Regions from separate parts of the Homo sapiens genome. Here regions 1, 2 and 3 are each reported to be linked to region 4. The links are microRNA targets in miRTarBase. Many come from high-throughput screens and were not tested one by one. Region 4 holds a microRNA gene; each other region holds the end of a gene's coding sequence.
The links. The annotated mature microRNA hsa-miR-769-3p reads CUGGGAUCUCCGGGGUCUUGGUU and lies in region 4 at 1,080-1,102, shown strand. An mRNA with a match to its seed (bases 2 to 7 or 8) in the 3' UTR can be bound and repressed. Matches are read on the target gene's strand: a 7mer-m8 pairs with bases 2 to 8, a 7mer-A1 pairs with bases 2 to 7 and ends in A, and an 8mer does both.

Region 1: miRTarBase lists LDB1 as a target of hsa-miR-769-3p. Seed matches in the 3' UTR shown: 7mer-A1 at 2,351-2,357.
Region 2: the mRNA of GPAT4 is a reported target of hsa-miR-769-3p. Seed matches in the 3' UTR shown: 7mer-m8 at 3,557-3,563.
Region 3: miRTarBase lists LMBR1L as a target of hsa-miR-769-3p. Seed matches in the 3' UTR shown: 8mer at 926-933 and 7mer-m8 at 1,187-1,193.

What each region holds. Positions count from the first base shown.
Region 1 is chr10:102,104,245-102,108,388 of GRCh38, forward strand. It overlaps LDB1 (LIM domain binding 1), which reads right to left. Exons shown (of 11, transcript NM_001113407.3): 11 at 2,245-4,079. The coding sequence ends at 3,849. Among named protein-coding and RNA genes, the nearest start is that of LDB1, 14 kb to the right of the region's middle. RefSeq lists an enhancer at 3,276-3,777.
Region 2 is chr8:41,620,527-41,624,684 of GRCh38, reverse strand. It overlaps GPAT4 (glycerol-3-phosphate acyltransferase 4), which reads right to left. Exons shown (of 13, transcript NM_178819.4): 13 at 1-3,792. The coding sequence ends at 3,684. Among named protein-coding and RNA genes, the nearest start is that of NKX6-3, 28 kb to the left of the region's middle. RefSeq lists an enhancer at 1,585-1,684.
Region 3 is chr12:49,094,196-49,098,353 of GRCh38, reverse strand. LMBR1L (limb development membrane protein 1 like) reads left to right here. Exons shown (of 17, transcript NM_018113.4): 16 at 249-410; 17 at 615-1,215. The coding sequence ends at 682. It overlaps DHH (desert hedgehog signaling molecule), which reads left to right and starts at 3,553. Exons shown (of 3, transcript NM_021044.4): 1 at 3,553-4,144. The coding sequence starts at 3,842. DHH-AS1 (DHH antisense RNA 1) reads right to left here. Exons shown (of 4, transcript XR_007063295.1): 4 at 2,610-2,953.
Region 4 is chr19:46,017,921-46,022,078 of GRCh38, forward strand. It overlaps MIR769 (microRNA 769), which reads left to right and starts at 1,012; the gene lies at 1,012-1,129. CCDC61 (coiled-coil domain containing 61) reads left to right here. Exons shown (of 14, transcript NM_001267723.2): 13 at 158-230; 14 at 370-696. The coding sequence ends at 467. PGLYRP1 (peptidoglycan recognition protein 1) reads right to left here. Exons shown (of 3, transcript NM_005091.3): 2 at 1,606-1,727; 3 at 1,233-1,499. The coding sequence ends at 1,318. RefSeq lists an enhancer at 3,741-4,158.

The sequences.
Region 1 (4,144 bases), not on the chromosome of region 4:
GGGTTCAGACCTCTGTGGATCCAGAAGCCCTGGCTGGGGTACATGGTCAGACTATCCGAATGAATTAATTCACCAACAGACACATACGTAAACATATGCGTATACATGCCTACATACAAACACACGTATACACTGCCTTACCTGCACATATAAACAGATCCAGGCCCTCCCTAGCTCAGCAGCACAAAGCTCTTCAGCAATGTGCTAAGGCTTGGGACTGGGCCCACATATGTACCTGAAAACAAAGGGCATGAGGGTTTTGGAGGGTCTCTCTCTTCCCTCACCCCAGTAATTCCTCTTCACCAGGGGTTCCTGGGGGCAAATGGGGAGGAGCCAGATATGGGGCTCCAGAGGAAGTTGCTGGCCACTGTGTTTCCTGAGTTCAATAGTGTGTTTTCCTGCTTCTCTGACCTACCCCCTGCCCCCAAGTAGGATGGGGTCCAGGCCTGGCAATCTACCTTTTCCCTTGACTATCTCCCTCCATACACAAACATATACATACAAGACGTGAACCTACAAATACCCAACCGAGTCACACAACCACTGTCCCAGCAGCCCCATAACTCAACACAGTCGCACTGCTAAGCCACACATTTAACAACACACCCTCATTTACGGATTTATAGCCTTCACTCACACTCAGCAGTCACATCTTCTCTGCTTTGTTCAACATCATATCCCCAGCACCTAGAATGGGCCTAGTACCTAAAGAGGGCTCAATGAATAATATTTGAATGAATTAATTAACCAACAGACACATACATAAACATATGCATATACATGCCCACATACAAACACATGTATATACTCCCTTACCTGCACATATAAACAGATCCAGGCCCTCCCTAGCTCAGCAGCACATACATACACACACACTCAGGCTAATGGGCTAGATGTACACTCAGTGCCAGACACAGACCCACTGTAGATGTTACCTGGCACTCTCAGGGTGAGTTGCTGGTGGCAGTTGGCTGGTAAATGTCCTTCAGGCTGGCCAGATCTACAAAGGAAGAGTTGGGGGTGGGGTGCAATAGCATTCCTTGGGGTCCTGAGGCACTGGGTTATGAGAAGCTGGGCTGGCAGCAGGGCACGGCCAAGATAACTGTAGATTGGAGATTGGACAGGTCATACAGTCCCTTCCTCTGGTGTCTTCCTACCAGCTAGGGAGGTGAGGGTAGAGGTGCCAGTCTATCGGGCTTTATTTCAGGTCCAGGGAGAACTTAGGAGGGGAACAGTTTGAGGCCTCAGCTTCCCCTGCCTGGGATGACAAAGAGGGACACTGGATAGGGAGCTTTATGGGCACTAAGACCCCATCTCCAATCTACAGCGGGGTCTCCATATCTTCCCAGTCTGGAGAGTAGCAATCCTGCTACTCTCTTAATCCCCCACCCAGGGACCTTAGCACCAGGGGAGACTAATTTAGACCTCAGCTGCTGACCGGGCAGAGTGGACCACGCCTATAATCCTAGTACTTTGAGAGGCCAAGGCGGGTGGATCACCTGAGGTCAAGAGTTTGAAACCAGCCTGGCCAACATGGTGAAACCCTATCTCTACTAAAAAAAAAAAAAAAAAAAATACAAAAATTAGCCAGGCATAGTGGTGGGCACCTGTAATCCCAGCTACTTGGAAGGCTGAGGCAGGAGAATCACTTGAACCCAGGAAGTGGAGGTTGCAGTGACCTCAGATCATGCCACTGCCCTCCAGCCTGGGTAATGGAGCAAGACTCCATCTCAAAATAAATAAACCAACTAACCAACCAACATCAGCCAGGCTAGTAGACTGGGGGCTGGGTAGGGGTAGGAGTCTCCCAGGTACTCTAAGTACCCCAAGACCATCTAACCCAAGCCCCCTCCTGGGCCAAGTCCCCTCTCCCACCCCTCCCTCAACGGCATAACCCAAGGCAGTCTATCCCAGGAACCTGCCCCAGGAGGGCCACCTGTCTGGCTGCCCCATGACAGCTAAGGGTGAGAAGCAACAGTCCTGGGGTGAGAGGTGGGGAGCAGACTGAGAAAGCCAACTCTCCCTCAACTTTTGAGGGAGATGGGGCCAAGCTGGGACATCTGGGAACAAACTTTAGGGTCTTGGGTGAAGGAGAAGTGTAATTCAGGGAAACAACTTCAAGAGTGAGGGGAAATGTGAGGTGAGTGAAGGGATCCAATTCATAGTCTTAGGAACTGCAAGGATGGGGAAAAGATTGCCTTGGACTGAGTCATTATTAGGCATCAATGACCAACCAGGACACTCTCAAACCGAAAAGTCTCTTTATTGATTGGTACCATACATGACTCAAATGGCCCAAAAAAAAAAAAAAAAAAAAAAAAAAAAAAAAAAAAAAAAAAAGGCATTACAGTTGGGATGGGATGTCCACCTTCCTCACCCCTTCCCTCAGCTCCTGACTCAATACCCTTCCAAAAGTGGCAGCTGGAGTGGAGGAAATACGGTGTGGGGGACCCCAGAATCCAGAGGGAAGAGTGGGGAGAGAGGTGGTGTTAGCACTTCCTGGGACTGGCCACAGGAAAAGGCAGCAAAGCCACAGAGCTGGACCAGCTGCGTGAAACCCTGCTCCTGGCTGCACCCTGGCAGAGCCGAGGATCCCGGCTGCCTCCTCCTCCTTCCTTCTGTGAGGAAGGAGCGGCAGGGGATACTGGCAGGTGAAGACCCTCTACCTCTACCTCACCTATGGGGACAGAGGCCTGTTCCTCCCTGGTGGGCTTAGAACTGGGATGTCATCTGTGGCTCCTTCCCCTCTATGAAGGACAGAGTAGGATTACATATGCAGTTGGAGGGGCTGAGGGAAGATTCTGGAGGAAAGTGGCTGAGCCCCTCTCCCATCCCATGCCTGCCCAACTGAAACAAAACCAAAAATACAGCAACAAGGCTGCTCCCTTCTCTCCACGCTCCCTAAGGGAAGGAGCCTCCCCTCCCCGCATCCTAGACAGCTGCTCTTGTGGAGGACTTGTAAGGAATATACATACCATGGGGGTGGGGCTGGAAGAGAGGGAGTCACAAGCACTAGGAGGGCAGGCCAGAGTCCAGAGAATGGGGACACAGAGACAACAGCAGGGGTCTGTCACCAAAATGTGGCCACCAATGTCCCCCTACCCCATGGCATGCTTTCCTCAACTGCAGTCACCCCAGAGGAAAGGGGGAGAGATGGTGAAATGTCTCCTTGGTCTGAAGCTCTCACACCATATAAAATGGTATGCACACCTCCCTCCCCCACTCTCACCCCCACCTAGGCCCTAGGCCCCCATCTGCCAAGAGTAGGGAGGTAGCTGGACTTTTAATAGGGGGAAGAGGGGGGGACATGAGTGATTTTTTTTTTAACTTACATTTTTAATAATATTATTTTTAAAAAAACTTGGAGCTGGGATAAGTGGCAGCAGGGAGGAGGGGCCCAGAGCTTTACCCCTCTATTACCAGCTGCCTAGGGGAAGGAGCATTCAACGAAGCCCCGTAACTTTAAGTCCCTAAGGGCTGTGGGTATAGACAACCCCAGGCTTGAAAGGGGTAAAGTCAGGGGGATGGGAAACCCACAATCTGGGGTGAAGATGGAGGCAAATGCCCTGGGGGGTGGTCAGGACATGTCTCAGAGGCCCAGGTTCCAAGTAGGCATCCACATGAGTACCCCCTCCCCCTAAAAGGCTCTGTAGAGGCCAGGCCCAGCCCAGGGCCACTGGGGGGGCAAATCTTGGCACCTGCCCCCAGAGAGTCCAGTTCCTCCCTGAAGCGGGTGGATGGAGGCTGCCCATTTTAGATGCTCAGTCTCTTCATTCTGTCTTCTGCTCCCTGGGGCTGTGAGGGGTGGGGCAGGTAGGCAGAGCACTGGGTGGCCACAGCAGGGCCTTTTACTGGGAGGCCTGTGACGTGGGGTTCTCCGATTTGCTTTCTTGGCTGGACGGAGGCTTGCTGTTCCAGGGGCTGTTGGCGCCCAGTGCAGGGGAGTTGTTAAAGCTGTCCTCGTCGTCAATGCCGTTGGCTGCGTCAAACTGGGTGTTCTCCAGCCGGGTGATGAGCCTCTCGTCCTCGTCCCCGAACTCCCCGCCCATCAGGGTGGGCTCCCCCACCACCATCACATCCTGAGAGTGGCGGAGGTCCCCAAACATAATCGGGGCAAGGGCTCGCCCGGCCCAGGGCGGCAGAT
Region 2 (4,158 bases), not on the chromosome of region 4:
GGGGAGAGAGTGGGGTGTGCGTGCTGTAGAAGATGGATGGCTGCGTGGCCATATCCTAACCTGTCCGCGAGGCAGTGCACCTGCAGCTGCCCTTCCAGCCTACGGACCGGGCCACCTGGGACAAGTGCACCTGGAGAAGCCGAGTCTGGCCACCCGGGATGCACAGCAGGCAGGTGGGACCTATGACATGGGGGGATCCTTCATGCATCAGGGGACACTAGCAAGCAATAGCCCAGAAAATCAAGTTCCTGGCCAATTCCAGGAAGGAAATGGCAGGATTCAGAGACCCAGATTTCCACAGGACAACAGGGTTAGTGCCCACTGTTTGCTGTGCCGTGAAGGTCACACGATGGCACCCAAAAATGCCTGTCACTGGTCTGGGAAGGGCATTTCAGGGATCTGGAGCACTCCCCCTGACCCCTCACACATCAAGCCTCTTCTCTGAAAGGCAGCACCAGGGACGGATTCTGACACGGTGAAGCATCAAGTCCCAAGGCTGGTTCTGCTGTCAAGGGAATCCCACTAGCTTTATTAAAAAGTTCCCTCTTGGCTGGGCGCAGTGGCTCACGCCTGTAATCCCAGAACTTTGGGAGGCCAAGGAGAGTGGATCACCTGAGGTCAGGAGTTGGAGACCAGCCTGACCAACATGGTGAAACCCAGTCTCTACTAAATACAAAAAATTAGCTGGGTGTGGTGGTGCATGCCTGTAATCTCAGCTACTTGGAGGCTGAGGCAGAAGAATCACTTGAACCCGGGAGGTAGAGGTTGCAGTGGAGCTGAGATTGTGCCATTGCACTCCAGCATGGGCAACAAGAGTGAAACTCCGTGTTTAAAAAAAAAAAAAAAGTTCCCTAACTGGTGGGTGGAAAGTCTCATGTTTGAGTAAAAAAGGCTGTCTGAGAACCACAATGAAGATACTGCCCAGCCTGAGAGCAGTATGGCCCCAGCCCCATGGCTGCCTAAAGCCCTTGAGGTCACCCTCAAGTGGGTTAGTTCCACTAGCCCTGATGTTTTAGAGAAGCAATGGATTCAAAGCTGACTTCCCGTATTTCCAAACCCAGAAGACTTCAGAGATCAAAGCCAAAGTTTGAACTATGGGCTTAAAAACAGAGAATTCAGAGGTGGACGAGGTCTCTGAGGTCATCTAGCCAAGTCCCTAGTTATGACTCAGGAGACGGATGCAGAGAAGTGAAGGTGCAGCAGGCTTGGAGGGGGGTTAGCAGCTGACCAGCACTTTCCACTCATTACACCACTGGGTGTCATTCCCAGCTCAGCCCCACCCTTGCTGGGGTAACAGGAGGGAACACATTATTTTGTACTTTGCATGTTTCTAAGTGTCTTGAGTTTTTGCCCCATAAGACCAACTCGGTTACCCCAAACCAGATACTCTGACTATGGGTCACTTGGGGCTTGCAGGACCCCTAATTTAAAAGGATGGAGCAGTCGCCTGGATGATGGTAAAAGGCATACACGGAAAGGGGAGGTTACGTTTCTGCAGGCGTGAATCAGTGCTCTCCTCACTGCCCGGCCCGCACAGGACTTCCCTCCACAGCACTGACTCCACGTGACTTCACACCAGGTGCGGCCACACCTGCCGGCAGGGGCCGCAGACAGCTGTGCTGAATGTGAGACAAAAGCAAAACCTGTGTGTGTGTGTATATATAAATACCTATGCAAATCACGAAAGTAACAAACCATAAAGTTTCAGATGAACTTTTTAAAAGAGAACCTGATCTTTTAAGACCAATTACTGATCCCTCCAGTTGGTTTACAAACACTGTAAACATCACCTATAAAAGCTGAAAATCACTTTTTATTCTTAAGCATTTTGTAAAACAGTTCCTAAGAGACTTATTAGTCATAACACTGACTTTATTTTTTCAGTCTTCATTTGAGAGCAAAAAGATTTCCCCCGGGCTGGCAACAGGGCAGGTGAGGAAATGGGAGGCTCTCCCAGGGAGGTCACAGGTAGGTGCAGAGAAAAGGAGATTGCAGGGCCAACCCAGCAGGTACCACATGCAAAGTGGATCTGTCTGCAGCCCCAGGAGCACAGCTTCACTCCCACCCACTCCCTGAACTGCAGGCCAGAGGGCGACCTTGGGGACGTGACACTCAGCACCACAGGCACAAAATCCTGAGAGGCATCATGACTGTGCCACGAGGGAGCATGGGTCCCAAGTGAGGGCTGGTGGGGCATGAATGGGGAGCTGAGGAGCATGAAACTGGTGAAACCCCAGAACCCACAGGGGCTGCTTGGCCTTGGCTCTGCCTCCACTGTGACTGTACAGCAGGCACCAGTGGCCGACTCTTTTCCTGTGGTGCCTGCTCTGGCTGTGCAGAAGCTGCCATGCAGCACATGCCCTGCCCACCCTGCCCCTCTGCAGCCCTCCCCTGTCCCTCCCCTGCAGAAGCCACCATGCAGCACAGGCCCTGCCCCGCCCCGGCCCCTCTGCAGCCCTCCCCGGGCCCTTGCTCCTCCCCCACCCTGGAGTTTACTCATTGCTTCCCCTAGGCCTCACATCAGCGACCCGCACACACCCCGTCTCTGGAGAAATCCACGTCTGTGCTGGAAATTCTAAATTAACCAAAGATCTGCAAGCATCTGAGACGAGCTGTTCACCTTCTGAGCTGCAGGGTTCCTCGCTCCAGCAGTCAGTTGGCTTCTCCGCAGCCCCAGGGCCATGCTCCCAGAAGAGAACGGGAATCCTCACGAGAAGCCTGCTACTCAGGGCCACAGCCAGGGGAGAAAGTAAAGGGAGAAGTCCCCCAGTTCATTCACCAGCCAGTTTTATTTACTCACAAGAACAAATCCAAAGCCCAGTGCAGCAGCTCTGAGCTCAGGCCTGCCGTGCCCCGTTTTGTGGGCCTGTACTTGAAACACTGAACGTGATGTGTCCTTCACTCACCCGCAGCACTTTAATCCCCACAACAGCCCTGTGAGGTAGGAATCACCACCATTCCCCCCGACTCATATTACAGATGGGGAAACCGAGACACACATTCAACAAAGCGCGCATCACATGGGGAGTTCAGGGTTAGCCTGGAGTACGAACACACGTTCTCCCCATGGCCCAGTCAGCGGCCCACCTGGCCTCTTCCCCTCCCTTTAGTAACCCCATCAGCAGCAGCATAAAAATCTAACCCTTCATTTTGCTGAAAGCCCCTGCAGATGACAGTTTCCTTCCTATCATGTCTGCAGAGCTCCAAGGCTGGGGGCGATGTTGAGGCCGAAGCCAGCCACAGTGCCTCAGCTGTGCCTTTCCTGGAGAGCGGGTGGCCGCCCCCAGCACATCCCTGGCACACGGGCTTGCATAACAGACTCTTGTACCGCCATCTCTAGCACAAGACCATGGCCACATCTCCCCAACCACTCAGCCCGCACAGCGTGCAAAGGTGGGGAGTTCACTTTAATGGCATTCCTCCAACGACTTATTGTAAAAGAAACAAGGCATCTCGTCCTGGGTCGCAACACCCAGCAGCATCCGTTTAGACCACCAAGGGTAGGCTGCGCCGGGTGCACAGGGATCCCGCTGCGGCTCGGCGAAAGCCGGAGTCCTGGGATCCAGAGCAGCCCGGGGAGCCCTGGAGTCTGGAAAGGACACAGCAGTGGGGGCGGCGGCGGCAACTCCAGCTCTGAGCCCGTTGGCACCCCGCACGGTGGCCCCAGCCAGCTGGAGGCAGGCTCAGGAGCGGCTCCTGTCCTTGTGGTTCCCCACGATCATCTTGCTGTACAGCTTCTGCTGCTCCTCCTTGAACGTGTCCTTCACCTTCTCCCTCTTCAGGCCCCCATCCCTGGAGAGACAAAGGCTGGATGTAGTAACAGCCAAGAGGGCTCCCAGCCACGCTCACACCATGGGAGATGCACCATGCTGCCCAAACACCAAGAAAAACCTGCCAGAAACAGGGTACCCCGTGGCACTCTCACCAAGACAACCTCAGGGGATTTGGGGCTCCGGGATCCCAATATCCACCCTTTCTATCTCAAAAGGTCTACCCTTGCCCTTGGGTGAGAATTTACTACTCACATTCAAGGTACTTGATAACTGCTTAAACCTACCAAGGAGTTTACAATTCTTTCTACTCTAACATTCATCTTCACCTCACAAAGGAAAAGGAGGAATTCTGGCATTATGGAAGGTAGACATGCTTTAAGAAATA
Region 3 (4,158 bases), not on the chromosome of region 4:
AGGAGCCAGAGGAGGCCTCACTGGAGGAGAAGATACCAGACTCTGGAAGCGAAGTTGAAGCAAGCCTAGCTGCTGGCACTTAGAACAGTCCCGAACTGCTCTTGAGACAGCTTGGGTGGTAGAATTGGGAGAGGCCAACCTATCAGTTGCAGTGTTGAAATGTGGCCACCAGGAGGCAGCAGAAAGTTGGGCTGGTAGCAGAAAAGGGCCTGGGGAGCCCACCTCTCATCCTGGCCTTTGTGCTTCAGGGCTCACTCGCTTTGACCTGCTGGGTGACTTTGGACGCTTCAACTGGCTGGGCAATTTCTACATTGTGTTCCTCTACAACGCAGCCTTTGCAGGCCTCACCACACTCTGTCTGGTGAAGACCTTCACTGCAGCTGTGCGGGCAGAGCTGATCCGGGCCTTTGGTGAGAGGGAGTGAGGGTGCAGGCTAGTGGGGGGTGGTAATCATCTAGGACACTCTGGAACATGGATCACCCCAGCAGGGGAGAGGGTGTGCTTCCTGCTTTGTGGGTAACGTACCTCATCCACACATTCTGTGGCTTGGCTGCCTGGTCCCTAACGGACTGGACCTTTGACTTGCTTTTGACTGCCCATCTCCTCTTCTCCAGGGCTGGACAGACTGCCGCTGCCCGTCTCCGGTTTCCCCCAGGCATCTAGGAAGACCCAGCACCAGTGACCTCCAGCTGGGGGTGGGAAGGAAAAAACTGGACACTGCCATCTGCTGCCTAGGCCTGGAGGGAAGCCCAAGGCTACTTGGACCTCAGGACCTGGAATCTGAGAGGGTGGGTGGCAGAGGGGAGCAGAGCCATCTGCACTATTGCATAATCTGAGCCAGAGTTTGGGACCAGGACCTCCTGCTTTTCCATACTTAACTGTGGCCTCAGCATGGGGTAGGGCTGGGTGACTGGGTCTAGCCCCTGATCCCAAATCTGTTTACACATCAATCTGCCTCACTGCTGTTCTGGGCCATCCCCATAGCCATGTTTACATGATTTGATGTGCAATAGGGTGGGGTAGGGGCAGGGAAAGGACTGGGCCAGGGCAGGCTCGGGAGATAGATTGTCTCCCTTGCCTCTGGCCCAGCAGAGCCTAAGCACTGTGCTATCCTGGAGGGGCTTTGGACCACCTGAAAGACCAAGGGGATAGGGAGGAGGAGGCTTCAGCCATCAGCAATAAAGTTGATCCCAGGGTTTGCTTTGTTTTTTTAAAGCACCTGTCTCTGTGTATATTTGAACAGCCTTGCTCCCACCAGCCCGGCGTCTGCCCAGTAAGAGAAGCAGAGGGGTCCTGCCCACCATCCTTTTCCTTCCCCTTCATCTATATTATTACCATCCTTTGGGGACTTGGATCTGGTGTTAGGCCATGCAGTTGGGCAGTGGGAAACTCCTCCATCCTCAGTCTTGCTTAAAGCTGGCTTGTCCCCTGACTCCTCCTTATATTCATGGCCTTGTTTCTGTACCTTGAGTATTGGGGGTAGGACATGGGCATAGGAGTAGGCTAACCTCCCCGATACACTCATACCTTCAGCCCTATCCTCCCTGGCTTAACTATTGGATATAGAGTAAAATAAGTGGCTGGCTGACAAGGATTTTCATTTCCTACCTGAGAGAAGAATCTAGCTTTTTACTAGAGGCCATCAGTTTCTTGAAAAGCCCATGTGCTATGTTGGGAGTAAGAGCGCAAAACTTAGGCTTATACAGATTGTGTATTGCACAGCTTCCAGGGACACCATTCACCTCATAGTCATTGTGTGGATAGTTACTATGATAGTTTTCTAATAAATGTCAGTCATCTTGAGGAAGGGGTGCTTTTTTTTTCTTTTTTCTTCTTCTTTTTTTTTTTTTTTTTTTTGTGAGACAAGGTCTGGCTCTATCACCCTGGCTGGAGTGCAGTGGTGCAATCTCAGCTCACTGCAACCTCCGCATTCTGGGCTCAAGCCATTCTTCCAGCTCAGGCTCCAGAATAGCTAGGACAACAGACACATGCTACCATGCCTGGCTAATTTTTGTATTTTTAGTAGAGATGGGGTTTTGCCATGTTGCCTGGGCTGGTCTTGAACTCCTGAGCTCAAGTGATCCACCTACCTTGGACTCCCCAAATGATGGAATTACAGGGGTTAGCCACAACACCCAGCCATCTTTTTTTTGGGGGGGGGGGTCCTCACTCTGTCACCCAGGTTAGAGTGCAGTGGCATGATCTTAGCTCACTCTACAGCCTTGAACTCTTGCACCCAAGTGATCCTCCTTCCTCAGCCTCCTGAGTACCTAAGACTACAGGCATGTACCACTACCTCCCACTAATTAATTTTTTTTTTTTGAAACGGGGTGTCACTATGTTGACCAAGTTGGTCTTCAACTCATGGCCTCAAGCAGTCCTTGCCTCGCCCCCAAAGTGTTGGGATTACAGGAGTGAGCCACTGTGCCTGGCCTGGTTTTTTCTGATGTACACAAAGTTGCTATGAGTACTAGCCATAGAGTGTGGTGAGGGGAGGGTGAATATGAAACACAAAGTGTAGATTCCACAAATGCTTGCAAAGCACCCTTCTGTAGAGTAGGCACTTAACCTTGGAGATACATGATAAATATGTGTGTGCTTAAGATTGCTTTGTCTAGTAAGGTGCCAGATAATTCTAATACTGTTCTAACACTGCAGTTAAGTAATGGTTCTCGAGGGAACACAGGTGGGCAGTGTTGGGACATCAAGGAAGGCTTCTTAGAAGAAATGACTTCTAAACAAAAGAAATTGGACGTGGTGCCTCTGAGATGAGATCTGAGTGGCTGAAAATGGAGCCCCGGGAGTCCAGAGAGGGAGAAAGCTGGAGAGGTGCCTAGATGGACGGTTAAGGGAAGTGATCCTCACCTCTTACAAAGACTTTTGAGTGTCCACTGCCCTTCAGCAGCTTCCAACTGAGAAGTCATTCATTTGAAAAACAGCAGCTATTAGATGCCTGGCAAAGAAGAGAAGGGGAAAAAAGTTGGAAGTCCTAAATGAGACAATAAGTACCAAGCTCTGTTCCTGGTTCTGGGGAAGTTCCAAAGGAGACTGCAAAGTTAGTAGAGAAATGGGCCCCTGGTATCCTCACCTCCCAGTCCTGCTTAATGCTGAATGTGAGGAGAGATGGAAGTCGGGGAGATCTGGGGAGGACTACAGAGAAGGGAGGCTCTGGTTGTATGCCCAAAGGGCTTGGCTGGTCTTGGGCAGAAATTGGAACCCATACTTCCTGGATGACAGCGGAGGGCATGGCCTGCCAGGGTAGGCTTTGAGAGAGTAAAAATTCCAATTCAAGTATCAGAGGAGGGTGGTTTGGTTCCAAGTTTAAGCTTGGAGGTAGAAGGATGTTTAGGCAGCCAAGGACTGTAAAGCTACAAGTATTTCCTAGGCAGGTGTCTGCCTGGTTTCCAGGATGGGACACACTTCAGTCGCAAAATGGACCAGCAGTGACCGGCTAGATCCCCCGCCCGGGTGGGAGGGGGTGGGACGGTCTTGGGAGAAGGGCGGAGGGCGGGGCCAGGGGCCACTTAAGGCGGAGTCCGGAGTCCGGGCGTTCTGGCAGCACCAGAGTCCTGCAGCAGAGACGGGCTGGGCTGGCACTCACCCACGACCCCCCTTCCCTGCTATGATGGTTTGTCAGTAGCAGGTCCTAGACACCCCCCGCCCGCTCCCGGGGCACGTGGGCAGAGCTAGCAGCAGCCAGGTGCACGGAGCCACAAGAGCTCTAGGGCACTCTGGGGGCAGCTGTGCCTGCTGCCCTCTCTGGTGCCTGTGGAGATGCCTAACTGACAGGAGAGTTAGTGAGGACAAGAACGCTCCCTTTTGGCCGAGGTCCGCTGTATCCATGGCTCTCCTGACCAATCTACTGCCCCTGTGCTGCTTGGCACTTCTGGCGCTGCCAGCCCAGAGCTGCGGGCCGGGCCGGGGGCCGGTTGGCCGGCGCCGCTATGCGCGCAAGCAGCTCGTGCCGCTACTCTACAAGCAATTTGTGCCCGGCGTGCCAGAGCGGACCCTGGGCGCCAGTGGGCCAGCGGAGGGGAGGGTGGCAAGGGGCTCCGAGCGCTTCCGGGACCTCGTGCCCAACTACAACCCCGACATCATCTTCAAGGATGAGGAGAACAGTGGAGCCGACCGCCTGATGACCGAGGTAAGGAGGGCCTC
Region 4 (4,158 bases):
GGACATTAGGAGGTTATTTTGCAGATAATGAATGGCCAGTAGGTGTCAGGCCTTATTTTTCCCCAAGGTCCTTAGGCTCAGGATTTCCAGTGGGATTTAGGGGGACAGAAATAGAGGGACGGTGGGTGACCCCCTTTCCTACCTTCCCCATCACCAGAAGTCTCCCCCCGTGGAACGCAGCCACCATCAGAAATCTCTGGCCAACTCCGGGGGCTGGGTCCCCATCAAAGGTGAGCCTGGGACTCCACATCCCCTCTCCCAGCCCCAGGACCCGTTGGAATGGTAGTGCGGGCAGTGGTATATTGGGCCCAGGAACTCCCTGGGGCTTCAGGCCCCTCACAGCCCCCATACCCACACCTGCTCTCACAGAGTACAGCTCGGAGCACCAGGCGGCTGACATGGCCGAAATAGACGCACGCCTGAAGGCCTTGCAGGAGTACATGAACCGACTGGACATGCGGTCATAACGTGGAGAAGGGGTACTACCCCTCCATCCCCCACCCACTTGCTGGGTATGGTGTGGGGGGTGGGGCCAGGGTGGCCTCCAGCCCTGCCCAGTCCCTGCCCTGGCCCCGTCCCTCCTGCTGCCCCTGGGGTCTCAGGTGTGTGAGGCCCTGACCCTGCCCTCTCCCCAGGCAGTGCATGCTGGGAGGGAGGATGTGTGCATTTTGTAAATAAACATATTTGCCCTGGGGACCCCTCAGCTTATGACTAAAGGGTGAGGGTGGAGTGGGGAGAAATGTGGAGGAAGAGAAATTGGGGGGTATAATTGGGACCTGTGTGTCTGTGCCTCGGAGGCAGATTGGGACTCAGGCCTAGGAAAAGCTTGTACACTCTCTAAACAGTGCAAGGGCAGACCTGGGAGGAGTAGTGAGCAGCCCGTCCCTAAAGGAGTCCAAGCAAAGTTTCTGCGCAGGATGCCTTTGGCTGTGTGGTGGGAAGGAGGTGTCTTGCAGCGTGGTTCACTGCCCAGGAGGACCCCCAGGACCCACTGTTGGTGACATCCCGGCCGCCTTGGTGCTGATTCCTGGGCTCTGACCTGAGACCTCTGGGTTCTGAGCTGTGATGTTGCTCTCGAGCTGGGATCTCCGGGGTCTTGGTTCAGGGCCGGGGCCTCTGGGTTCCAAGCACCAGTGAGGAGAGTGCTGGGAGGGGAAGGGGTGGGAGGGCTTTGGTCTTGTGGGAGGGAGAGAAGGAGGGGAGGTGTGTGGTGGGACCTGCTGAGGAACACATTTTGAGCTACATCTTTATTGGAGAAGGAGACAGTGGGGTTTTTGGCCATGGGAGGGGAGGAATGGGGTGCGGATCAGCAGGGCCTCAGGGGGAGCGGTAGTGTGGCCAATTCTGGATGAGGTGGTAGAGCTGGTTGCCTGGAGAGAGTGTACGCTGCACATCCCGGTGTCCTTTGAGCACATAGTTGGACCTCAGGGCTCCCTGAGCCACACCGCAGGCCAGTAGACCCTGGGCTGCCCGGATGGCCTGGGGTGTGGGCACCCGATCTGGAGGAGGCAGAGGTAGGAGTCAGGCAGGGGCTTCCCCGAAGGGGAAGTGATAGCGTAGGGCCCCGTGTCAGCCCCCATCCCAACTGGCTGGACAGTCACTCACCCATGTAGTTGCCCATGAAGCTGATGCCAATGGACATGGGGTTCCATAAGTGACCTGAGTGGGCACCCGTGAAGTTCCAGCCACGGCCCTCGTATACGAGCCCGTCTTCTCCAATCAGGAAGCTGCATGGGGAGGTGGGGGGGCTTGATGAGTGAGGGAGGGTTTCCCGAGGAGGACTCCTCCTCCTTCCTCCACTCACCCTGCCTCCGTTACTGCCGTGGTGCACACAACTTCCCCAGCATCCTTCTCACCCGTTAATTTCCCACGATAGTAACAATGACTGTGGTCATTTATTGGGCCCCTGCCATGTGCCAAGCACAGCTCTGCATACACCTTTTTCCATCCTCACAGCAACCCTGTGAGTCACTATCACCCCCGTTTTATATAGACAGAATCAGAGCGGTAGAATCACCTGCCCCGGGGTCACACAGCCTGTCTGGGGCACAGCTGGGGTTTTTAACCAGGCCTCCATGGTCCCCACCCATGTGATCTTGTGCGTTGCTCTCTCCTGCCTCCCTAGAGGATTTGTGGAAGTCCTGTTTTACTGAATCCTTGCAGGACAGCCCTCTGAGGCAGAGACTTTTTTTTTTTTTTTTTTTTAAGACGGGGTTTCACTCTTGTTGCTCAGGCTGGAGTGCAGTGGCGTGATCTCAGCTCACCGCAACCTCTGCCTCCTGGGTTCAAGTGATTCTCGTGCCTCAGCCTCCTGAGTACCTGGGATTACAAGCATGAGCCACCACACCCGGCTAATTTTTGTATTATTAGTAGAGATGGGGTTTCACCATGTTGGCCAGGCTGGTCTCGAACTCCCGACCTCAGGTGATCTGCCCGCCTTTGGCCTCCCAAAGTGCTGGGATTACAAGCATGAGTCACCGTGCCCAGCCAAGGCAGGGACTCTTATCATCCTCATCTTAAGCAGAGAGAGCAGAGACTCAGAAAGCGACATAATTTGTACAAGCTACTCAGAGCCCCCTGCCTCTCAGAACTCTGCCTTTGCCCCAGCTTGCTTCCTGCCCTCGGGGTCCACTGGGGGACAGGATCACAGACTCAAAGTTGGGGTCGTAACCAGATACCGACCCTGGAGCCCCAGCACCTGCCTCTTTGAGGTTCCCAAGCCTGGCAGCAGATCCTTAAGGCTGATTCATTCAGCACATCTGATTGAGCGTGTCTGACTTGGCAAATGGGAATGAACTAGAAGATCAGTGCCTTGGAGCTGCAGTATGTGCCAACTCAGCCCCCGCGCTCACAGTGTCATTAATGACGCACAGAATGTCGGAACTTCCGAATCTTGAGTCCCGAATCTGCTGCTTAGGAAGCCAGCTCCCAGAATCTGGCCCCAGTGATGCTGGCTGCTGGGACTGGCTGGTTATGGCCCTGCTGGTGATGCTGGCTGCTGGGACTGGCTGGTTATGGCCCTGCCATATTCCCGGAGCCTGGCATGATGGTGCTGGGGTCGGGGGTGGTTGGTTCTCCCTGGTCATTTGTTGCATGAATGCATCTCATTGAAACCTCAGCCACCATCGCCAAGCGGGTACAGTCAGAAGCCCCATTTACAGGTGAAGAAACGAGGCTCAGAGAGAGAAGGTGACGTGACATGGAAAGGGGATTCAGAACGTTAGAACCAGATTCGGAATCCTAAAAGCTGAGGGCCAGACAGCGGCTGCTTCTGTATGTGGTGATGTGGACCCGAGGCTCGGGCCTTCGTGACCTCATGGGAACACTTAGGATCAGAGCGCCTGAGTCTTGGAAACAAAATGTTGAAGTTGGAGTCTTTGATAAAATCTTGAACTGGAAGGGCTGGGAATACCTTTGGACACTTCTAGACTTCTCTGGGTGGGTTTTGTGTGTGTGTGTGTGTGAGACACAGCCTTAGGAGGTCCTGAGAACATGTGTCCCCTGGGTGGGGTCTATTGAAGTGGTCTCTGGGGACCTGCATGTTCCTCCAATAAGCTCTGCAGGAGATTCTGATGCTTACCTGGGTCTGAGAGCCTGCAGGATTGAAAGTTCCCTCCCTGTGGAAACCGTCAGGCTGGACTGCAGCCCATTCTAAGGAGGAGGTAGCTGGTAGGCGTGGCCCCGGACCTGCTTCAGCCTGCTTCAGCCGGCACCCCTTACAGTCTGTTCTCCCCACAGCAGCCAGAGGGAGTCTCTTGTACCTACACTAGCCCTGGTCCCTGCTCTGCGGGGGGAAGCCTCCCATGGCTCCCATCTCGGAGTAAAAGCTACAGTCCTCACTGTGGTCCACAAAGCCCTGCCTGGTCCTGCCCTTTCCTCATTTCATTCCGCTCGCCCGGCTGTGTTCAGCCACCCTGTCCTTCCCACAGGACCCGCCCACTCAACCCCGTTGGCTTTGCCCCCAGCACCCCCTGCCACCTGCAGGCCTCTGTCTGCTCCCCCATCCCAGAGCCAAGGCAGCCACTCTCAGGGAGGCTTTCCCTTGCCCCACCCTTCCAAGGAGCCTGTGTGGGTCTGGTCCCAGCCTGAGGTCACCCTCCCTCACCTCTTTCCTTTTATCCATCGCCTCTATCACCGTCTGAATTCACCTGTGGCCTT